Homo sapiens: one gene and its partners. The protein of the gene in region 2 purifies or fractionates together with the protein of the main gene of each other region. This does not show direct contact. Each region holds a gene or a part of one and is shown on either strand. Other genes may lie near its edges. The genes, in order: PTPRG, FYTTD1, CCNYL1, ERICH5, TRIOBP, GNG5 and CCNY.

Region 1 (3,500 bases), about 140 Mb from region 2:
CAACATGTGAAATAGATGGGGCAGGGGACTTAGGCCTCAGTGACCTTGGACCACAATGATTGCTACTGCTTTCACTTAGAAGCTGAATCTTCCACTGGAAACTGGGATGGATAAGACCTATGATAGTCTTAAAGAGGCTCTATTCCTGTAACATTAAGAAATCATCTGCTGCTTCTGTGATTTTTAAAAAACTAGATCAATCCCTAGTTTTTATAAAATCTTCTTATTAATAATATCAGCCAGGCATGGAGGCCAACTCCTGTAATCCCAGCACTTTGGGAGGCTGAGGTGGGTGGATCACTTGAGCCCAGGAGTTTGAGACCAGCCTGGGCAACAAAGTGACACCCCATTTCTACAAAAATTAAAAATAAAAAAATTAGCCAGCATGGTGGCACATGCCTGTGGTCCCAGCTACATGGGAGGCTGAGACAGAAGGATCCCTTGAACCCAGTAGGTCAAGGCTGCAGTGGGCTGTGTTCACATAACTGCACTCCAGCCTGGGTGATGATAGAGCAAGATCATGACTCAAAAAAAAAAAGAAAAAATTACAAAATCCCCATTGTTTATAGGAAAATTGTAGCCTGATCCTAATAAATAAAAATATGACGTTAAACACAAGAACTTTCCACACTAGAATAGAGATTGTGTTTTTGTAAATGGCTTTTCTGAAAGGTTCTTCTAAATAACAATATTTATAGTATATATGAAAATATTTCATTTTTAAATTTTTAGTTTAAATGTTCCATATAAAATACCTTTTCAAAAGCACTGGGAAATCCTTGTATAAAGCTTGTTTTTTGTCAGCCACAGTAAATGACTTTAGTTGGTTGTTTAAAAATGCTTTTATTCTGTTTCATTTGAAAATGCATTCTTGCCTCTTTTTTGTTTGTTTTAAACTTTGGTACTCAAATACATGTCGCTTGTTCTGTGATTTATGTTGCAATGCTAAGTGAATAACGTACGTCATCTAAGGTTATCTAAGTGGGGTTTAGGCTGGGAGTGGTGGCTCACACATGTAATTCCAGCAGTTTGGGAGGCCAAAGTGGGCAGATCACCTGAGGTCAGGAGTTCGATACCAGTCTGGCCAACACGGTGAAACCTCTACTAAAGATAAAAAATTAGTCGGGTGTAGTGGTACACATCTGTAATCCCAGCTACTCGGTAGGCTGAGGCTCGAGAATTGCTTGAACTGGGAGGCGGAGGTTGCAGTGAACCGAGATTGCGCCACTGCACTCCAGCCTGGGCAACAGAGTGAAACTCCATCTCATCTCAGAAAAATAATAAAATAAATGGGGTTTAGATTGGAATTTTTCGAATCCAAAGTTAACAGTATGATAAAACAAAAGTGCCAGTTGAGTGTCTTCATTTCTTACAGTGCTGGTGTGGGCAGAACAGGCACCTATATTGTAATAGACAGCATGCTGCAACAGATAAAAGACAAAAGCACAGTTAACGTCCTGGGATTCCTGAAGCATATCAGGACACAGCGTAACTACCTCGTCCAGACTGAGGTAAGGAGTAGCTGCCAGCGTCCTCACGACATTCTGGCAAATGCTGTAACTGAAATTTGTTAAATGATAATGAAGAGACAGATTCATTCTTTTAGGGCTTGCAGTAATTTACAGGTTTGTATTAGAAGATATTCTGACAATGATCCTATTCTACGGATCACAGTTTTCCATTTCTGTATGGATCTTAACATTTGGATTCCTAAATAACTACACAAGTACTTACGAAAGAGATACAGTTGTTTCAAGAGCTGTGTTAGATGGTAGGGGGAGTTAAACATGTTGTCTGGCCTGAGAAATACATAGGAGAGGATGGTTCTAAAACCCTTCATTGAACACGATTTTTTGTTTGCTTATTGAGTTGAAGCAATAAGCACAGTATAGAATACCGTGATCCAGGCACAGTATAGAATACAGAGCTAAACTTAACACAGTCTCTACCGTAAAATAAGTTAAGACTGATAAAGTGAGTATTGGAGCAAATCACCTAGCTGTAAGTGCTTGAAGGAAATCACTGGGAGGTCCCTGTTAGCAGCAGAATTAAACTAAGGTACACTTCATGAATGAGTGGCTAACCCTTAACACTCCCTCAGTGACTACCATGTATTGTACCTCTTAGGAGCAGTACATTTTCATCCATGATGCCTTGTTGGAAGCCATTCTTGGAAAGGAGACTGAAGTATCTTCAAATCAGCTGCACAGCTATGTTAACAGCATCCTTATACCAGGAGTAGGAGGAAAGACACGACTGGAAAAGCAATTCAAGGTAGTGCTTTGAAAAAGTTTCTTTGGCATAAAGCAAGAAAATGTTTTAAATGCCTTGAGTTTGGGGGTTATGTCTTCTTTGCATTAATGTATACACCGAAATGGATTACTATTTGTACTCCTTGTACTCCTTAAATGTGATGAAAAAGAAAATACGGTTTTGACCTATGTATGAATTGTTGGTATTCAAGTAGATATACAGTGTTGTATTTTCTTCTGAGCAATTTATGACTTTATCTGAATATAAACATCAGCCCCTGGCCATAATGACATAGTACTTTAAAGTAACTCGTTTAGTCCAAAAAATGTCCTATTTTTTCTGAACTAATCTATCTTACCTTAATTATTAAGAATGATGACTTGTAGACATATTGTCCTAAAAATATGCCTATTTCAAAAACTATTTCAGAAGATAATTTAGGAATTTAAAAAGAATTACTAAACAATACTAGAGAAAAGTTAACTTTTCCTAAATGGTTGTTCTTTTTCTTTGATAGGGACATGAAGAAGCTTAAAAGCGGTTAAGGTTTATATGGAATTGACTGAAGTGAAGGTGAAAAAGAGAGATTATAAGGACTATTAAAATAATTAGGGCTCAGTCATCTGATAATAAATCAAAATTGCTTCTAACTTTCAAACATCGCCTGTCTCTCCAGTTACCAAGTGCTTTCCTATTTATCTTTGTCTTTTAAATTCTATTTTGCACATTGTTCTGTATGTAAATAGTTTCTCCCTTTGTATCAAGATTCAAAGAATGAGATGAATCTACAGTTTTAGTTTTCATGGTAAAACTTTCCATAGACTGAAACTTTCATTTGAATCTCAGCTGAAGAAATGAGACTGCCAAGCAAATTATACCAAGTGATATGAAATGAAAAATAGTTTAATTTCACTGAGTTCAGTCATAAAATTAAAAATTTTTAGCTCCCCATTAACATTCTACTATAAAACCATGAGATAATTAATAATGAGGACACAGTGTATCATTTTAAATGTTTAACATGAGTTCTTACAAAATATTAAGTACCAACATTTCTTAAATTCTGCCTTTTTCGTTTCTTCAATTTTTTTTTATACATACTTTAAAACTTCATTTAAGAAATGCGACCAGGTAGTTGGTTCTTTTACAGGCACTAACCATTTTAGAGCTCAAGATGAAGAAAAAAACAAGAATCAAACTTGAAAATGAAAATTATATCCAGGGACCATGAGTTTTACTAAAGCATC
Region 2 (3,500 bases):
GGGTTAGGAAGTTCTAGAATAGCGCGGGCCCCTCCGCAGCACTCACGCACACGCCCCACTGGGTTAGGAATTTCTAGAATAGCGCGGGCCCCTCCGCTGCACTCACGCACACGCCCCACTGGGTTAGGAAGTTGTAGAATAGCGCAGGCACCTCCGCTGCACTCATGTACACGCACCACTGGGTTAGGAAGTTCCAGAGCAGGATCGCTCTTTGGATTCAAATCCTCTGCTTTCTGTGGTACCTACTGCTTTTTTTTTCCCTTCAGGTGCAGGCCCAGTTGAATACAGAACAACTGCTAGACGATGTAGTAGCAAAGAGAACTCGTCAGTAAGTTTCCATTTGTTTTTTAAGATGTTATTTCAAAACTCCCAGAATACTAACTACCCAAATTATCATGTACCTCAGTCCAGAAGAAATTAATTGAAACCCAAAATAAAATTCAGTCTGAAAGCTGGGCATAGTGGTGCTACACACCTGTAATCCCAGCTAGTTGGGAGACTGAAGCAAGAGAATTGATGGAGCCCAAGAGTTCAAGGCTGTGAAGTGCCATAATGTCACCTGTGTATCGCCACTGCACACCAGCCTGAGCAGCATAGCTCGATGCCACTGCACACCAGCCTGAGCAGCATAACTTGATTGCCACTGCACACCAGCCTGAGCAGCATAGCTCGATGACCAGTGCACACCATCCTGAGCAGCATAGCTCGATGACCAGTGCACACCAGCCTGAGCAGCATAGCTCGATGACCAGTGCACACCATCCTGAGCAGCATAGCTCGATCGCCAGTGCATACCATCCTGAGCAGCATAGCTCGATCGCCAGTGCACACCAGCCTGAGCAGCATAGCTCGATCGCCAGTGCACACCAGCCTGAGCAGCATAGCTCGATGGCCAGTGCACACCATCCTGAGCAGCATAGCTCGATCGCCAGTGCATACCATCCTGAGCAGCATAGCTCGATGGCCAGTGCACACCAGCCTGAGCAGCATAGCTCGGGCTATGGAGACTGTCTCCAAAAAAATTTTTAAACATTGAGGCTAAAATAAATAAATCTTGTTTTGTCCTTTGTTAATTTTCCCCAAAAACCTTTTGAGTTTTCATGTGTCGATATTGTAACAGTTTTAGTGCCACGTAGATTACTTCATTTTTATTATTTTTATTTTTTATTGGCTATACCATTTTAATGAAACAGCTTTTTCTTTTTCTTTTTTTTGCTATAACTGCTTTCATACAAATGAACCTATTTAGGGAATGAATAGAATAAAATTCAGTGGAGCTTTTAGAACATTTGTACAACTTTAAAAACAATAGTTTTCCTTTTCACAGTCTTTTTTTCTTAGCCCTATAAAAAATCTTTTGAAAACCTATTTTATCCTGTTATAATCACACCTCCTAAGTGTGAGTTGTAACATACTAATTCCATCAGTGTGATTAGGTTTTGAGATTAAACTATTTAAAATTATGACTACTTTTTGGAAAATAAAATATATACACTTGGCCCTCTGTGTCTCAAGGGAATTGTTGCCAGGCCCATTGAAGAGATTAAAATCCTCAGATACTCAAGTCCCTTTCAGTCGGCCCTCCATATCCGCGGATTGTCTCTGTGTCTCAGGGGAATTGGTTCCAGGCCCACTGAAGAGATTAAAATCCTCAGATACTCAAGTCCCTTACAATCGGCCCTCCATATCCGTGGATTGTTTTCATTCTGCGGTTGCAACTGATTGAATACATGGACGTAGAACCTGTGGATACAGAGAGCTGGCTGTAAAACATGGTCAGGGCCCAGATATGGTGCCAACTGTGGTGCATGATTTTTAGCAATTGGAGTGTTAGGAAACTGTGAAACTGATACAGGTGGTATTCTTTAGCACAGGGGTCATGACATTAGAAACCATGGGGAAAGAAATAATAATTGTAGCCTTTTTGCTTCTGCAGTGAACAATATTTACATAATTGTGATCATATAAATGTTATTTGTTTTGAACTTTGAGAATCAACCTGTTAGACAAAGCACAAAATAGTTAATTTGAGAACAATATAATGTAAATGTCCGATTTTGACTAATGTGAATATAAAGGAAGAGCTGACAGAAAGTGAGAGGTACAAACAAAGGAGCAGAGGTGGAGGGAAGGAATAGAGGCACTATTATCCTTTCACATAAAGCTGGGGGTGGGTTCAAGAGATTCTGCTGAAAGAAACAGAGATTTAAGTATTTTCAGTTACAAAGGCCTGGAAATAGTGATACAGCCATCAAAATGTTTCATGGTGGGTAAGGAAACTGGAGGATAGTTTGACGAACTAAATCTTTATTCATCATAGCAATTTTTTTTTTTTTTTTTTGAGATGGAGTCTCGCTCTGTTGCCCAGGCTGGAGCGCAGTGGCACAATCTCAGTTCACTGCAACCTCCCCCTCCCGGGTTCAAGCAGTTCTCTGCCTCAGCCTCCTGAGTAGCTGGGATTACAAATACCCACCACCACACCCCACGCCCAGCTTAAATTTGTTTTTTTTTTTTTTTTTTTTGGTAGAGATGGGGTTTCACTATCTTAGCCAGGCTGGTCTTGAACTCCTGACCTCATGATCCACCTGCCTCTGCCTCCCAAAGTGCTGGGATTACAGGTGTGAGCCAGTGCCCGGCTGCAGCAAGGTTTTTTTTTTACTATGTAAGCATCTTGTTTAGTGAATTGGAAGTAACCAGAAAGCAGTAAAAACAGGTTAAAAGTGCTGCCTCTGGAGAGTAGGAATAGAAAGCAGGAGAATAGTGGGGTGAGGGACTGTTGCTTTTTATTAGAAGTTCTTTTGTACTATTTGATTTTTTTAAATTTGTATACATTTATTACACTGAAAAATATTTAATAAATTAATTCAGATGCCCAGTTCCGCACCCAAGATGTTGATTTATTATATCATGGTGGGGTTCAGGTACTTATTTCTTACAAGCTAAGAAAAAGTAATGGCTACTTTTAATGTTCATTTTTATTTTGAATATACATAGGGTTTATCAACTTACATTTAATGAATTTTTTTTATTTTTTTTGAAACTAGATGGCGGACTTCCACCACAAATGGAGGGATTTTGACTGTATCTATTGACAATCCTGGAGCAGTGCAATGCCCAGTGTAAGTTGTTTCTTTCTTTTTGCAAAAATTATAACCTCTCATTACATGAGATCATAAGAAAGTATTGGACTTCTGCTCAGAGAATGATGTCCAAGTTGGGATGAACCAGGAAGACAGTAATACCTGTGATACAATATGGAAACAGTATATGGTGTAAAGTAAAGTAAGAGCTTTCTTGATTCCTGATTCTGCAGCCCTAAATGACCACGTTGGAACAGTGTTTTTTATGTTTTAAAAATTATGTGCATGTATACTCTGTGTACCCTTTTTTTGGAGGCAAGGTCTGGCTCTGTTACCCAGGCTGGAGTGCAGTGCCATGATCATGGCTTATTGCAGTCTTGACCTCCCAAGCTCAAGCGATCCTCCTGCCTCAGCCTCCCG
Region 3 (3,500 bases), on a different chromosome or scaffold from region 2:
AGGTAAGGTACCAGGCATTAAGCATGGGATGATGATAAAGAGTGCTAAATCAGAAAAGTTGGAAAAAGAGAATTTGTAAGCACAGAATTTACCATTGTATGTTAGTATGACAGTTACATTTTTATTTCAATTTGTCTCAAAATTTATTTTTGTGGCATTCAATAAAGTGATAATAGAAATCTCCATTTCGGCATTTGCCTATTATTCATAAGTTTCCATAGAAACATGGCCAGAACACCAAATATAAAGTATAGACACATTGAAAGTTTGCTTTTAATATCTTTATTTCAGACAATTTTATATCAGTCTCCCTGGAAACAGAAATTCTTACTGAGATGTAAAACATTTGGCTGGGCATGGTGGCTCACGCCTGTAATCCCAGCACTTCGGGAGGCTGAGGTGGGCGGATCACGAGGTCAGGAGTTCGAGAGCAGCCTGGCCAACATGGTGAAACCCCGTCTCTACTAAAAATACAAAAATTAGCTGGGTGTGGTGGCGGGCATCTGTAATCCCAGCTACTCAGGAGGCTAAGGCAGGAGAATCACTTGAACCCAGGAGGCAGAGGTTGCAGTGAGCTGAGATCGTGCCACTGCACTCTAGCCTGGACAGTGGAGCAAGACTCTGTCTCAAAACAAACAAACAAACAAAAAATTTAGCTTTTCTACAATGAAGAATTATTTTTGTTACTTAGACAAAAATCATACATAAATGACGCTCGGCTTTGTTCTTCAAGCTATTTCTTTTTTTTTTTTTTTTTTTTTTGACAGAGCTTCACTCTTGCCTAGGCTGGAGTGCAATGGCACAAACTTGGTTCAGTGCAACCTCTTCCTCCCGTGTTCAAGTGATTCTCCTGCCTCAGCCTCCCAAGTAGTTGGGATTACAGGCATATGCCACCATGCCCAGCTAATTTTTGTATTTTTAGTAGAGACAGGGTTTCAGTATGTTGGCCAGGCTGGTCTCGAACTCCTGACCTCAAGCGATCCAGCTGCCTTGGCCTCCCAAAGTGCTGGGATCATAGGTGTGAGCCACCGCGCCTGGCCTTTTTTTTTTTTTTGAGATGGAGTTTCGCTCTTGTTGCTCAGGCTGGAGTGGAATGGCGCGATCTCGGCTCACTGTAACCTCTGCGCCCAGAGTTCAAGCAGTTCTCCTGCTTCAGCCTCCTGAGTAGCTGGGATTACAGGTGTGTGCCACCACGCCCAGCTAATTTTTTGTGTTTTTAGTAGAGATGGTTTCACCATGTTGGCCAGGCTGGTCTGGAACTCCTGACCTCAGGTGATCCACCTGTCTCAACCTCCCAAAGTGCTGGGATTACAGGTGTGAGCCACCACGCCTGGTCTCGTCAAGCTAAGAGATGCTCCTAAGAACCTAGTAAACATTTCAGATAGACTCAAAGTATTTTCTACTACCTTGCCTTTATTTAACGGTATGTCTAACATAACTGACGGTAGTATCAGTAACACAAAATAAGATACTAAGATCTTATTGTCCGATTTTATTAGTACTCTTGACTTTTCATGGAGCATTTTATGTTCTGACGTTAGGAGCTTTGCTAATTTGCTGGCTAAAGGCGCTCTCTGAAGTGACTCTTTCTATTCTTTTCCACTGATGGGTGAAGGTAGGGAAAGAATTGGCAATGTAATGTGGAAAAACCTCTGAGCAACAGATCTTTCCTCTTTCCAGTAGCTATTTTAAGCCCTCTCTTTTTTTTTTTTTTTTGCTTTTTTGAATAATATGTTTGATGTAAAAGACATAGAGAATACAGAAAAGTCATTGATTATGGTATGCATATGAATATAACATTTTATTTTAGAAAAATGAGATCATTCTATATGAGCTGCTTCATAACTTACAGCAGTGAAATAATGTCATAAATTCCTGAATCACTGCTTGACATCCAGAGAGTGCTCCAAGATATCTTTCCATGCCAGGACACCCTGCTCTATCGCATGCCTTCTAGTAACTGCTTAATGTACCATCAGATGGTTGGAGTATCATTTATTTACCTATCCTTTATGATTGGGCATCTTTTCTAGTAACATCATACACAGTCTCATTACATTTGATTTCAAGGGTACCGATAAAAACATATTTTGATGACTGATGCCTTGTACCTCCCTGTAGAATTCAGTTAAATCTATGGGTTGAGTCATTTTGTAGTTAAGATATTTTAGTATTAAATGTTCTTATGGGCCAGGTGTGGTGGCTCACGCCTGTAATCCCAGCACTTTGGGAGGCCGAGGCGGGTGGATCACGAGGTCAGGAGATCGAGACCATCCTGGCTAACACGGTGAAACCCCGTCTCTACGAAAAATACAAAAAATTAGCCGGGCGTGGTGGCGGGCGCCTGTAGTCCCAGCTACTCGGGAGGCTGAGGCAGGAGAATGGTGTGAACCCAGGAGGCAGAGATTGCAGTGAGCCGAGATCACGCCACTGCACTCCAGCCTGGGTGACGGAGCGAGACTCCATCTCAAAAAAAAAAAAAAAAAAAGTTCTTATGTCAAATTGGAGTTAGCATTGACTTTTCCCTGGACTTTAGAATTCATCATTTAATATTTTTTGTTTCTTGGTAGCCTATCTTGCATCTTTAATTCTGAATAGCTACCACTTTAAAAGATTTGATGCTTACCACTTTAAAAGATTTGATTAGATGACAAATCAAGAGAGAATGTTAGAAGAAATATTAAAAGATGTGGGAAAACTGGGAGAAACTTGACTAGTTTTGGGTGTGCTGAAACAGATGTTTATTGAGTACCTTTAGGTGGCCAGGCTGTGTTCCAGATTTAGGGCAGACAGTGGTATACAAGACAGAACCTCATCCTAACTCTGATCCTTACATTCTGGAGGGAGCTAGGGATAGATAATACATGAATAATCAAGAATGTTAGGTGGTGAGGTGCTAGGGAGAAAAGTAAAATAGGGTCATGGATTGGGGAGGAGGACAGTTACATGGGGGTTGTGGGGATGAAAGATGGCTGCTCTCCTTACGTGACCTGTGAGCAGTCCTAAAGTGAGAAGGGAGCCTTGTGAGGATGGTTGGTGAGAGCCAGGGGTCCACACAGACAGTTACTTTGGAGTTCCTTGAATGGGAGCAAACTTGTTTTTGGCCAAGGACAGAAAGACACAGGGTGGCTGCGGAAGAGTGAAAAGGATGCCAGGACTATGGTGGGTTAAGGCCATGTGTGTATAGTGGGCCTTGGCAAAGAATATAGACTTTAGTTGTGATAGGAAACCATTGGAGGATTATAGCCTGGGAAATATTTTTAATTCTTTTTTTTTTTTTTTGAGATGGAATCTTCACTGTGTCGCCCAGGTTGAAGTACAGTGGCTCAATCTTGGCTCACTGCAACCTCCGCCTCCTGGGTTCAAGCGATTCTCCTGCCTCAGCCTCCCGAGTAGCTGGGGCTACAAGCACGTGCCACCACACCCGGCTCATTTTTTGTATTTTTAATAGAGATGGGGTTTCTCCGTGTTAGCCAGGATGGTCTCGATCTCCCAACCTC
Region 4 (3,500 bases), on a different chromosome or scaffold from region 2:
GGTCTTGAACTCCTGACCTCAGGTGATCCACCTGCCTCGGCCTCCCACAGTGCTGGGATTACAGGCATGAGCCACTGCACTCAGCCCAGAAGCATGATTTAATGGCAGACAATCAAGCGTTGTTTTACAGTGCTAACCTTTTCCTGCATAGCTAGGAGGCTCTATACACAACCCGACACTCTTTCTAAGCCCATCTTGGCCAATATTACCTTTCAGTTTCTGGTATTCATTAGGTTCTGATTCCTCCTCTGCTTTTCTGAGTAATACTCTTACCTCCCTGAATCCCCGTCTCTGTCAATCACCCATTCACCCATCCATCTACTCAACAGTTATTGCTTGCTTTTTTTTCTTTTCTTTCATTCTCTTTTCTTTTTCTTTTCTTTTCTTTTTTTTTTTTTTTTTTTTTTGAGATGCAGTTTCACTCTTGTTGCCCAGGCTGGAGTGCAATGGCGCGATCTTGGCTCACTGGTTCAAGCGATTCTCCTGCCTCAGCCTCCAGAGTAGCTGGGATTACAGGCATCAGCATACCAGTAAAAAATTAGCCACCACACCTGGCTAATTTTTTGTATTTTTAGTAGAGATGGGGTTTCTCCATGTTGGTCAGGCTGGTCTCGAACTCCCAACCTCAGGTGATCTGCCCACCTTAGCCTCCCAAAGTGCTGGGATTACAGGGGTAAGCCACTGCGCCCGGCCTCTTTTTTCTTTTCTTTAGAGAGAAGTCTCACTGTGTTGCCCAGGCTGGAGTACAGTGGTGCTTGACCTCCTGATTCTCCCACTACGGCCTCCCAAGTAGCTGGGATTACAGGCTCGAGCGTCCACACTCAGCTGATTGCATATGTTCTATGTGTAAGGCCACACTACAAGTTTCTTGCAGAACTAGGACCAGATCCCAGATGGAACTGGAAGTTGTGAAAAGAACAGGGGCTTTGGAGTCACACACATTAGCCATGTGCCCCAGGTCCATCCATCCATCTAGTAAGTAGGCTTACTAGACCTACTAGCTCTGAGACCAGGGCAAGTGACTTATCTGTATTAAGCTTCGTTTTCTAGCTGTATTTGGTGCAATTAATGTTTGTGTTTTAAGGCTATTGTGAGGATTAAATAAGATCACAAACTAAAGCACCTGAAACCAAGTGCATGCTCCCTCCTTATCTCCTGACTTCTGTCCCATGTGTATGTTTCGATGTGGCTGCACAAATGTCTGAAAGTTTTCTGTTTTAGAAAAAGATTTACTTTATTGTTGATGACAGTGTAAACTGCTTCAAGTCTTACAGAACACATTTAGGCAGTTATCTATCAAAACTTTCAGTGCGTACACCCTTTGACCTAGTAATGCCACTCCTGGGAAACTGTCCTACAGATATACTTGCACACATTCAAAATGATGTAGGCACAAAGGAATTCATGGCAGTCTTGTCTGCAACAGGGAAAGACTGTAAACAAATTAAATGTCCCTCAATAGGGGGGCTGGTTAAATAAATCAAGGAACATATTATTATGCAGGTATAAAAAAGGAGAAAGAAGTTCTCTGCATATAAATGTGGAAAAATCTCCATAGTGTTAGGTGAAAAAAACAAAGTGAGGAACGGTGGGTATAGTACACTACATTTTATAAATAAAGATGAGAGAAGGAAATAATATTTGCAATGCATAAATAAACTTCAAAAGAATATATAAAAAAAAAAACCCTAAAATAATAAGTGTGTATTCACAGGTGTGATTCGAACTAAATAGATGATGAGGATGGGGTGGAAGGTATACTTTTCAGACCTGCCTTTTCCAAATATTTTCACATTTTTGAACCATGTATGTAGTTTTTTTATTCCATTTCAATTAGCCATATGCAATCGCCAGGCCTATCACAAAGACATACCAAATGCTATTTAAGTGCCAGGCTCCAGAAATGACACAAGGCACACATTTGAAAGAAAAAAAATCCCATTTATATAATTTCTATATGCAAGAAAAGCCTATACAAATTAAATTTAATGTTTATGATGTTTGTTCTTCAATTCAAAAGGAAAACTTTTGTCTAGTTAGGACCAGATGACCTAACTAGATGTCAGAGTGTGAAATATTGGGTGAAAACTGAAGGTATGACTGCAGTACAAAGAACAATTCACATAACTGTGAAATTCAAGCTTCATCTGATTGCCTAGGCCGCATGGACAGCAAGCAGCTAGTGAAAGTTCAGGTTAGAACAAACAAATGATTATAGCTGTCAGTGGAAATGTACACATTAACCTAGCAATGAACTTGTCAATAATTACCACCTATTTACTTTGTCCATGTTTGGTGCTTGGGCTGTAACACCTTGGAAAGAAGTCTGCCAAAACAGATCCCATTTATATTAGGAAAGATTCGAGCAGTGATTATCCATGTTAGCAGAGGGCTAGGAACACTGGGAGGAGGGTTTGGATGTGAACGTCTATAGACACCTTCAGGCACATTAAGGTCTGTGGAGTCAATAAAACCTTTGTGTTCAGATTGCATCGGATCCTCAGGACACTCAAAACAACAGAAATTGTCCTAATATTTAAAACTTGCTTCCAAAAACACAAGAAATTCCAAACTCAATCTGTCTAATTATCCTTTGGAATGAAAAGTCTCTTTCCTCACACATTTCAGGGCACGTCATAAAAATCGATGTGTGACTACCACATATTAGGCACTGTTCTACGCTGTGAGGAGCACTAATAATTGTTAACAATCAGAGTCTTCACCTCTGTTCTCCCAAACACACACACCTATCTGGTCAGTCATCTTGGGAGGTGATAGGAAGCAGCTCCGTGAGATTCAGTGTCTAATGGGTCAGGGCAAATGTCCCCACATAATCAGTAGAATAGATTATTCCTGTGCAACCTAATGTCTACCTACTAGTAGCTGCTGTCTGATTTAAATTTATAACATAGGCTGGGCACAGTGGCTCATACCTGTAATCCCAGCACTTTGGGAGGCCGAGGTGGGAGGATCACTTGAGCTTGGAAGTTCAAGACCAGCCTGGGCAACATAGCAAGACCCTGTCTCAATTTTTTAAATAAAAAATAAAATAAATATATAATATTTGTATAACACATTATACTATATATCTTATTTAGGGATTAGACTAATATTTAGAATCATAATAAGGGATTATTCTATCCCTAAATAATATATATAGTATAGGCCACGCGTGGTGGCTCATGCCTATAATCCCAGTACTTTGGGAGGCTGAGGCGGGTGGATCACCTGAGGGCGGGAGTTCGACCAACATGGAGAAACCCTGTCTCTACTAAAAATACAAAATTAGCCGAGTGTGGTGGCACATGCCTGTAATCCCAGCTACTCGGGAAGCTGAGGCAGTAGAATCACTTGAACCCAGGAGGCCGAGGTTGCAGTGAGCCGAGATCATGCCATTGCACTCCAGCCTGGGCAACAAGAGCGAAATGCCGTCTCAAAAAAAAAAAAAGATACATAGTATAATTTGTTGATTGTATTGTATTGATTTCATTGTTTTTAGA
Region 5 (3,500 bases), on a different chromosome or scaffold from region 2:
GAGGTGGAGGTTGCAGTGAGCTGAGATCGCGCCACTGCACTCCAGCCTGGGTGACATAGTGAGACCCTGTCTCAAAAAATATATATATATATATATGGGGTTGGGAGGCCAGGTACAGTGTCTTTACACCTGTAATTCCAGCACTTGGGGAGGCTGAGGTCAGAGGATCACTTGAGTCGAGGAGTTTGAGACAGCCCTGGCAACAGAATGAGACCTTGTTCTAGGAAAAAAAAATTTTTTTAATGAGCCGAGCATGGTGGTACGTGGCTGTAGTCCCAGCTACTTGGGAAGCTGAGGTGGGAGGATCGCTTCAGCCTGGGAGGTTGAGGCTGCAGTGAGCCATGATCATGCCACTGCATTCCAGCCTGGGTGAAAGAGCAAGATCCTGTCTCAAAAAAAAAGTATGGGGTTGGAGTTTTTTGTTGTTTCATGTCTTTTGCCAATGTCATTAGAATCAGAGCCATAAAGCACAATAATGTTAGTTGTTAGCAGTTATTGGCAGCTGGTTCGGAGAGGAACCAAAGTTCCCTGGAGGAAGTGTTTCTGAGCTTGAGGGCTCCCTGGGCAGGCTGTTTGTAACTTTTTTTTTTTTTTTTTTTTTGAGATGGAGTCTCGCTCTGTCACCCAGGCTGGAGTGCAGTGGTGCAATCTCAGCTCACTGCAACCTCCGCCTTCTGGTTTTAAGTGATTTTCCTGCCTCAGCCTGCTGAGCAGCTGGGATTACAGGTGTCCACCACCATGCCCAGCTAATTTTTATATTTTTAGTAGAGACGGGGTTTCACCATGTTGGCCAGGCTGGTCTCATTTTGAACTCCTGACCTCAGGTAATCCACCTGCCTTGACCTCCCAAAGTCTTGGCATTACAAGCATGAGCCACTGCACCCAGCCAATTTGTAATCTAATTGGAGGTGAGTGCGTTTCCTTACTCTGTGAGAGCTGAAGGCCTTAGAGTGAATTTTCCCCCGAACTGGGGTATAGGAGCTTCGATGAAGCAAGAGCCCAGACGTGACCCAGTGGGCTGTTCCTCCCTAATGGGGAGGACCAGGAGGACAATAGTGGAAACACCCGGTGCAGGGAAGCAAGGCACTTGTGTGTTCTCTTCCGGATGGATGCATTTTCCATACGAACTCCAGCTTGCTTGATGAGCATTCCTCCTGAGAACTCGCCTTCCTTTTTTCCCCCATGTAGAACTGAGAGAAAAGAGTGAGGGACTCAAGAAGATTCTGAAACCCCAACAGAGACCTGGCTTGTCCGATGCTGAAGCAACAGCGTCTCCTCGGGGCCACCTGTTCCCGAGGGTTGATGTGGCCGCACCAAGCATGACAAAGGAAACGTTTCCTTCGGAAGCTTAGATGGGTTCTTCGACCTCCAGAGAGAATTAAAGGAGCAAAGCCATCAAGTCTAGCAAATCCAGTGAAGGCTAGGTTTTGAATTCAAATGACCACAGGATGCTACGTGACTCTAAGAGATGCCAAAGGCATCTAAGGAAAAAAAAATTAAGATCAAGCCAAAACTCCCAATGCTTTGATGTGACAACCCTTTAAGAAAAATTTTCCAGACTCGGGACAATGCTTGGACAGAGTAGATGCTCAATAAATACATATCGATGAGGAAATAGGAGAAAATAAAAGCACACTCCTACAGCCACCCGCTCATAAGCTCCAGTCTGTCCCTTACACACACACTGCACAGTTTTAAAATTTTCCATATTCAGAGGATGAATGGTTTTCTACTTGGAAAAGGTGCCAGATAAGAGGAAAAATTTTAATTATTCAGTAAAATTATGAAAACTTCCCTAAAAGGTAAATAAGCTATTTCAAAGAGAGTAGAATTAAATGTATAGGAGTGATCGTGTAAAAACAAATGGTTAATAAAAGTGTAAACATATTTCTCATTTCTATTATTAATATAAACACCTTATCTCTCTGAAATTATCCTGGAAAAAAGGAAAGAAAATTAATTAACTTTGGCTTAAAGACCTTAATGTCCCTGCTGAGTTATTAGTTAAGACAAAGTTAGGAAAATTGACATTAGACAAGAAATAGTAATCATAAAAAGGTCAAAGACACTTTGGGAGGCCAAGGTGGGAGCATTGCTTGAGGCCAGGAGTTTGAGACCAACCTGGGCAACAAAGTGAGACTCCATCTCTACAAAAAGTAGAAAAATTAGCTGGGTATAGTGGTACACGCCTGTAGTCCCAGCTACTGAGGAGGCTGAGGTGAGAGAATCGCTTGAGCCTGGCAGTTTGAGGCCGCAGTGAGCCATGATCACGCCACTGCACTACTGCTGGGTGACAAAGCAAGACCCTGTTTCAAAAAAAAAAAAGGTCAGACCAGGCACGGTGGCTCACGCCTATAATCCCAGCACTTTGGGAGGCCGAGGTGGGTAGATTGCCTGAGCTCAGGAGTTCAAGACTAGCCTGGGCAACAGGGTGAAACCCTGTCGCTACTAAAAATACAAAAAAATTAGCCGGATGTGGCGGCATGCTCCTGTAGTCCCAGCTCCTCGGGAGGCTGAGGCAGGAGAACTGCTTGAACCCAGAAGGCAGAGGTTGCAGTGAGCCAAGATTGCACTACTGCACTCCAGCCTGGGTGACAGAGCGAGACTCCATCTCCAAACAAAAAAAAAAGTTAAAGACACTGAAGACTTTCAGGGTGAAACTACTCCATGATGTTACAATGGTGGATACTTGTCATACATTCATTCAAGCCTATAGGCTGTACATCACCAAGAGTGAACCCTAAACTTTGGGTGATTTCATAGTGTAGGTTCATGGATTGTAACAAATGTATCACCCTACTGCCCAGTACAGTGGCTCACCAGCACTTTGAGAGGCCAAGAAAGGAGGATCCCTTGAGGCCAGGAGCTGGAAACAAGCATACCTATCTAGTACAGGATATTGGTAGTGGGAGAGGCTGTGCATGGAACACTGCACTTTCTGCTCAATTTTGCTGTAAACCTAAAACTGCTCTGGGTTTTTGTTTTTAAGGCCAAAGAAAGAATTATACTAATGCTGGAGACCACACGGTTGTCATCTGGATATTAAATGATCAAGCTTACTGGAAAAGGAAATTTGAAGAACAAGAGATAAAGTTTCTTTTTTTTCTTTTTTTGAGATGGAGTTTCACTCTTGTTGCCCAGGCTGGAGTGCAATGACGCAATCTCAGCTCACTGCAAACTCCACCTCCCAAATTCAGGCAATACTGCTGCCTCAGCCTCCTGAGTAGCTGGGACTACAGGCGTGTGCCACTATGCCCGGCTAATTTTTTTTTTTTTTTTTTTTTTTGAGACGGAGTCTCACTCTGTCACCCAGGCTGGAGTGTAGTGGCATGATCTTGGCTCACTGCAAGCTCCAGTGCTGGGATTACAGGAGGGAGCCACTGCACCCAGCCAAGACTGATAAGGTTTCTCATGCAGATTCAAATCCAGGAGAAAACTTTCCCAAGGAGCAGCAAAGAGGAATTTTAGATACAAAATATTCCATACCCTTTAGGGTGATG
Region 6 (2,878 bases), on a different chromosome or scaffold from region 2:
TGGTATTTCAAAAAACTTAAACATCTTAACCAATCATTGTATTTACTGGAAACATGTACTTATACAGACTTCCTGGACACTCCCAGGTCTAGGAAGCTTAATTAAGGAGGGCACAACTATGTAACAAGGTATTTTAGGAAGCAGCTTCCTGGACTTTGGAGAAGTCAGAAAGTTAGTAAGGGGTGTGTGCCATATACAAAATCTTTTTTAAAAAAGTACTATTAGTTTAAGTTTGCTTCTCATAGGTCAATACTAATGAGTACATTCCCTAACTAAAGTACTAAGAATTTATAAAAGGCAGCACCCTTCAGTTACATTTTAAATGATCCAAAACGTTTTTGGTCACATCTCTTAGATTAACATACATTTTGTACACATGACATTTGATCTGGAAGGCACAAATTAATGTACTGAAGCATGCTTTAATAAAGCCAACAGGGTCTTTAGTTTTTAATTCTCTGAAATTCAGTCCACTGTCTGTTTGCCACCAAGAACTTATATACTGCATTTCCTTCATGTTTTATCTTTAATCTAACAAATGAGAACAAAATATAAAGTCTGTTCTACCTCAGTCCAAACGCCTCTACCACACTGGCTTACTCAATTACATCTGACTTTCTCTTGCATTTCCAATTCCCAATCTTTGCTATACTGCTCTACAGCTGGGTTCAGTTAGAGCAATAACATCAAGAGTTAATCCAAATCAGTTGGTAGTACTTTAAGTTATCCCCATAAACATTGCAGATTTTTTAAAAACTGTCTAAATATTTGCCAGGTACACAAAAACAAAACTAGTACTTGGGGACTCCATTAGGCCAATGCTCTAAAAAGTAACACATGGCTTGTTACGGCAGTGGGATTTTGTAGTAACTCTCCTATACCCTCTTTATGGTTATTAAATCCTCTACTTAACCTTCTTTATGGTAAAATAGAAACGATTAGCCTTCATGGCTACTAAGTCAGCAAGTTTCATGAATCCTCACTTTCCTTGCAAAACAGAAAAATACTGGAAATGGAGGGCCAAAGGAAAGGGCATGGGATGATCTTTTAAGTGCTGCAAAGAAAGAGAAGACTAGTTATTCCTACAGTGTGGGTTTTTGTTTTAAATTTAAGGAAACTTACCTTTGAAAGATTCATTTTACTACAAAAAGGAACAGACTTTCTGGGGTCTGAAGGGATTTGTACTTGAAGATACTCCAGTCAGCAGAGGGTCATGTTGAGCATTCTGCAGACAGAACTGTTTCAAGTCTGCAGCTGCCTGGGAAACCTATACATAACAAAGAGGGGGGGAAGTGCCAGATGGTGAGAACATTTTAATGAAGGTTTTCTCAATCTTTGGAAATATTGTACTTACAATAAAACAGTACTTCTCTTGCTTCAAAAGAAGATACTATATAATAATTGAAGACTTAAGTCAAATAGTGAGCTCTTTTTTTTTTTTTTTTTTTTTTTGAGACGGAGTCTCACTCTGTTGCCAGGCTGGAGTACAGTGGTGCGATCTCGGCTCACTGCAACCTCCGCCTCGGTTCAAGCGATTCTCCTGCCTCAGCCTCCTGAGTAGCTGGGACTACAGGCGCACGTCACCACGCCCAGCTAGTTTTTCTATTTTTAGTAGAGACGGGGTTTCACCGTGTTGGCCAGGATGGTCTCTCTCTCTTGACCTCGTGATCCGCCCACCTCGGCCTCCCAAAGTGCTGAGATTACAGGTGTGAGCCACCACGCCCAGCCTAGTGAGCTCTTAATACTTAAAACTAGTGCTTGCAAATAAGACTGATTTAATTAAGTATGTTTTCTTTTGCTTGGTTACTAGAAGCATCAGATGACTGAGTACAAACAGTAGAATTATGTTGATTTTTGCAAAGCGTAGCACATCTTGCTTATTAATAATAGGCTGTTCAAGTGCAAACCTGAGGGTACTTAACATCTTATTAAAAACATTAAGGGTTAAACAAAAAGCAATAACATTCTAGCAAACTATTACTTTGTCTTGAAAGCAGTATTACTGGAAAAATGCTACTGTGAATGAACATAATGTGGGATAACTAGCACATAATTTAGAAAAGCCAACACTAAGAATGCATTCAGTATACTGATCCTCAAATTTATCAGACCCTTATACTGTCTTGCATTTAAACTAAAACAAATTAAAAGAGGCATGCATTCATTCACTTAGACATCTACTATTTCTATATATTCTGCTAAGGTGATGTAGGATATAAACAAAATAACCATAAAGCCATTGAAGTTCCTTAAGTCCTGTTTGGGTGGCTCTGTATATGTATATTAACACTTAAATCATATTTAAGGCAATAGTTTCTTAAAGGCAGGCTGCTCAGAAAAACTGTTAAATTGAAGTTTGCTAGCAGCCTTTCAGTCACGTGACACTGGGCAGAAATCTGTCACTGTCTAGTTTAATAACATTAACGGACCCGTTCAGACGTGGAACATGAATGACTAAAACATGCCCCAAATGCATCTAATATCTGAAGTCTTGAACTGAGATTTAAAAAGTGGGAGAAATACTCATTTATTTTATTCTCAGTCTTTATCCGCAAGGAGGCTGGGAGCAGGTGTCCAGTCCATCCAGCTGGATATGTGGCCTCAGGGAATTAATAGCATCACAAATGCTCTCTATACCAAGAACCCCTGCAGATTACAGCTGTACCTCCAACCTAATAATTCTTCATCCTAAGATGAATCTAAACGCTTATCGAATCTATTTGTGTGTTTTGCTTATACAGCAGTCCAGAGTAATGAGTTCCATAGGTTTATTAGCTCCTATGTAAAAGAAGTATTTTTACAAATGACTACACCCCCTCATCCCCCGCCTTCCAAAAGAAGTGTAGCTAAAGTAGGGGAACAATGGTGTCATTTTTCA
Region 7 (3,500 bases), on a different chromosome or scaffold from region 2:
CATATAGGGAGAGAGACAGAGAGAGCCAAAAGCCTGTGGGTTGTGACCAACTCAGCATTCCACTGGAGGCTATATGATCAAACAGCAAACTGTTTATCATGAATGCAGGATGTGGGCAAACTCACAACTGCACCTGCCACCAGAAGGTTTGTTGAGTGTAATCACTCCCTGGTGCCGTGCTCCTTGAGGTTATCTACTGGAACATCTAGAGACTACTGTTCAGAGAATGCAGCTGTGCAGGCCTGCTCTAAGTCAAGCAGCTGACTGACAACCACCCCCTTCTCTGTATCTCCTTTACTCAATAAATACGAAGGGCTATAGAAGCTCTGGGCCCTTGTTCACTAAAAGCAAGGAGCCCCCTGACCCCTTCTTCCAAATACATTCTTTTGTCTTTGTCTTTATTCTCACGTTCATCCTCCTTTGTTCACTCCAACAGGGATTAGGGCTGCAGCATATATATAGATCTATATATACATACACACACACACACACACACACACACACACACATATATATAGATCTATATATATATATGTGTGTGTGTGTGTGTGTGTATGTATCCCCACTCAATGGAATATTATTTGCAATAAAAAAGGACATACTATACATGCTACAACATGGATGAATCCCAAAAACATATGCTAAGTAAAAGAAGCCAATCATGAACTATCATATGAGATACTATTGATATGAAATGTTCAGAATAGGCAAATGACATAGAAATTTGATTAGTGGTTTCCTGGGCCTGGGTGGAGGCTAAGAACGAGGAGTGAATGCCAAAGGGTAAGGGGTTTCTCTATGGGGTGAAGGGAATATTCTGAAATTAGGTTGTAGTGATGGTTGTACAATGTACTAAAACCCACTAAAATGCTCACTTTAAATGGCTGAATTGTATGGTATATAAAATATGTCCCAATAAAGCTATTAAAAAATAGGAAATAAAGAAAGGGACCACACCCCCTCCTGTCTGGTCAGCTGTCACTTTGCCACCTCGATCTCTTCTTGGTTCCCCTTCCCTTATGCCGGAATCCCTCCATCAATCACCAACTTCCTCTCTTTCTCCCTCTCCCATTGCTGTGGCTCTACAGACAGAACTAACCTCACACGGAATGCTCAATCAAGGTTCAGTTGAGTGATGTCCCCGAAGTTGACGAGTTTTTTTCTGTCCCTTCAGAAAGCTTAAGCAGGGCTGGGTGTGGTGGCGCACGCCTGTAATCCCAGAACTTTGGGAGGCTGAGGTGGGCAGATCACTTGAGGTCAGGAGTGACCAGCCTGGCCAACATGGTGAAACCCCCTTCTCTACTAAAAATTCAAGAAAAATTAGCAGGGCATGGTGGCGCAAGCCTGTAATCCCAGCTACTCAGAAGGCTGAGGCAGGAGAATCGTTTGAAACTGGGAGGTGCAGGGTGCAGTGAGCTGAGATTGTGCCACTGTACTCCAGCCTGAGCAACAAAGTGAGACTCCATCTCAAAAAAAAAAAAAAAGTTAAGCAATGAAATGAAATGTGTCAATGTTCTAAAACTACTGGGGCAGGGGAAGATAATAAATAGGTATTAAATGATCCTTATGTTTCAGGCACATCACCACCATGTACTTCAGCCAGTAGGCAGTTATTACTGTGCTCACTACATGTTCAACAAATACTTACTGAGCATTCATTATGAGCTGGGCTGTGTTCCAGATGTTGGTCGTATTGTAGTAAACCACATGGACAAAAAGACCAGACATTTCTTACGCATGGGGCTTACTGACAAAACAATAAAATTAATGACTTCAACCTAAAGCATGCTGACAGGTGATAAGCAAGTGGAGAAAAAGCAGGAAGTGATGAGCAGGGAGTGCGGTGCAGGAGGGAGGTTGCAACTTCAGATATGGTGGCCAGGCAACAGCCCCCTGATGTGCCCTTTGAGCAAAGATGGGGAGGAGGAGGGCAGGACGCATCTCAAACACACCTGGGACAGAGGGAGCTGGGTGCCAAGGGGTGGAGGAAGTCCTGAGGTGCAGAAGTCCCGAGGCAGGTGTGTGTCCGGTACATCCAGGGAACAGAGCAGCTGCAGCATGACACTGAGGAGAGTGGAGGCAGCTGGGCAGAGATGGGAGGCTTAATCTTGCTAGGCCCCGTCAGTAACATAAGGGCTTTGTGTTTTCCTTTGAGGAAGATGGGAACCACCACAGGTTCTGAACAGAGGAGCGTGCAAAGTGAGAAAAAAAAGAGCAGGACCAAGCTCCTTCAACTCTGGGTCATGACTGATTTTTCTACAGATGAACATCTGACCCCAAAGGAACTGGGGCCAGTCAAAATCTCCCCTCTCCAAAACTGAAAGAGGAGACTGGGTTAGAGGGTGTGCGGCCTTAAACGGAGAGGTGATGAAGGGTGGGGAAAGCTATTAATACTGTCCTGCCACATCCCATCCGAAGCAAGAAAGCCGACCTGCACATTAAGGCCCCAGAGCCACAGCAGTGCGCAAAGGTGAGAGAAGCAGCCCAAAGGAAGAGAAACCTGCAGTGGGCCTCATTCTACAGCCTGATGTCCTTCCAGACCTACAGGACAAGGGATATGCGAGACCTGCCTGGACCTTCCAATATATCTCCTTCTGCCTTGGCCTCTGGCTTTCTCATCCTTCCAACAGAAGATCCCAGTTCAGACAGGCAATGAGCTTTTCATGTTGTCGAAGTACCGCATAGGACTAAAGTGGGTGCCATGCATGGTTCTCAGGATCAGTCAGCTTGGGTGACTCCTGAGGGAAGGGAAGGGCCTCGTGGAGGGGCAGCTGGATGCCAAGGCCTTTCTGCCCACTTCACTGCAGGCCTGGCTTCCTCCAGCTGCTGCAGGTACACCACAAAGGCCTCTACATAACTCATCAAGGTGCAAATCAATTACCTCACTCCCTTTCAAATTTCCTCATGTGGCAGTATCCATAGGAGAGCTTTCAGCATATTCTAGGAGGCTAAAAAATACACTTAGTGATCTAAGTTATTGTTACTCTTTTAAAAGGAAGTTGATTAAGCTGTGAAATATTTGCTTTGGGTGAAGTAGGTTTGGGTGTTTGAAGGGCCTGTAGGCTCTCTGTCCACAGCAGGCTGCAGTCCTACTCCGTGTGGGAAGCACGGCCAGGGCTAACTGCTCTTCCTCCTCCATTGCCTGCTGAGCAGCATGCCAAGATGCCAAACACATGCCCAGTGAAAATAAGGGCTTAATGAATGCATCTCTGTCAACTCCAGGCCAGACTTGTCCTGAATGACTGTTTCTAACTCTAGGGAACACGAGGAGGGAAGAACAATCCTACAAGAGTCTTGCTCAAGGCACACGTCTCTGTGCCCTCTACCCACAAGCATGCAGCTGCGCTGATGAGCCTCAGCAGACAGCAGAGACCAGAGGATGGGCTGCAGGGCTGCACCTACCACGAAGGCCTCCAAGGCTGCTCCTCTCCAGCTGCAACCAACAAGACCCCCATACAAACTGGTATCCTGGTCAACACCAGTCTATTTCATAGGACAAA

The links.
Region 1: the proteins of FYTTD1 (region 2) and PTPRG purify together in Homo sapiens (affinity purification with mass spectrometry; 3 studies listed by BioGRID and IntAct, with this or other methods). This does not show direct contact.
Region 3: the proteins of FYTTD1 (region 2) and CCNYL1 purify together in Homo sapiens (affinity purification with mass spectrometry; 3 studies listed by BioGRID and IntAct, with this or other methods). This does not show direct contact.
Region 4: the proteins of FYTTD1 (region 2) and ERICH5 purify together in Homo sapiens (affinity purification with mass spectrometry; 2 studies listed by BioGRID and IntAct, with this or other methods). This does not show direct contact.
Region 5: the proteins of FYTTD1 (region 2) and TRIOBP purify together in Homo sapiens (affinity purification with mass spectrometry; 2 studies listed by BioGRID and IntAct, with this or other methods). This does not show direct contact.
Region 6: the proteins of FYTTD1 (region 2) and GNG5 purify together in Homo sapiens (affinity purification with mass spectrometry; 2 studies listed by BioGRID and IntAct, with this or other methods). This does not show direct contact.
Region 7: the proteins of FYTTD1 (region 2) and CCNY purify together in Homo sapiens (affinity purification with mass spectrometry; 2 studies listed by BioGRID and IntAct, with this or other methods). This does not show direct contact.

What each region holds. Positions count from the first base shown.
Region 1 is NC_000003.12:62,271,571-62,275,070, forward strand, and holds part of PTPRG (receptor-type tyrosine-protein phosphatase gamma isoform 1 precursor), read left to right. Parts: intron 1-1,375; coding exon 1,376-1,511; intron 1,512-2,127; coding exon 2,128-2,274; intron 2,275-3,500.
Region 2 is NC_000003.12:197,773,883-197,777,382, forward strand, and holds part of FYTTD1 (UAP56-interacting factor), read left to right. Parts: intron 1-266; coding exon 267-328; intron 329-3,044; coding exon 3,045-3,119; intron 3,120-3,500. UniProt on the Homo sapiens protein: Required for mRNA export from the nucleus to the cytoplasm. Acts as an adapter that uses the DDX39B/UAP56-NFX1 pathway to ensure efficient mRNA export and delivering to the nuclear pore.
Region 3 is NC_000002.12:207,714,640-207,718,139, forward strand, and holds part of CCNYL1 (cyclin-Y-like protein 1), read left to right. Parts: intron 1-3,500. UniProt on the Homo sapiens protein: Key regulator of Wnt signaling implicated in various biological processes including male fertility, embryonic neurogenesis and cortex development. Activates the cyclin-dependent kinase CDK16, and promotes sperm maturation.
Region 4 is NC_000008.11:98,067,568-98,071,067, reverse strand, and holds part of ERICH5 (glutamate-rich protein 5), read right to left. Parts: intron 1-3,500.
Region 5 is NC_000022.11:37,728,048-37,731,547, reverse strand, and holds part of TRIOBP (TRIO and F-actin-binding protein), read right to left. Parts: intron 1-3,500.
Region 6 is NC_000001.11:84,500,704-84,503,581, forward strand, and holds part of GNG5 (guanine nucleotide-binding protein G(I)/G(S)/G(O) subunit gamma-5), read right to left. Parts: intron 1,268-2,878; coding exon 1,142-1,267; 3' UTR 1,123-1,141; intron 1-1,122. UniProt on the Homo sapiens protein: Guanine nucleotide-binding proteins (G proteins) are involved as a modulator or transducer in various transmembrane signaling systems.
Region 7 is NC_000010.11:35,532,009-35,535,508, reverse strand, and holds part of CCNY (cyclin-Y), read right to left. Parts: intron 1-3,500. UniProt on the Homo sapiens protein: Positive regulatory subunit of the cyclin-dependent kinases CDK14/PFTK1 and CDK16.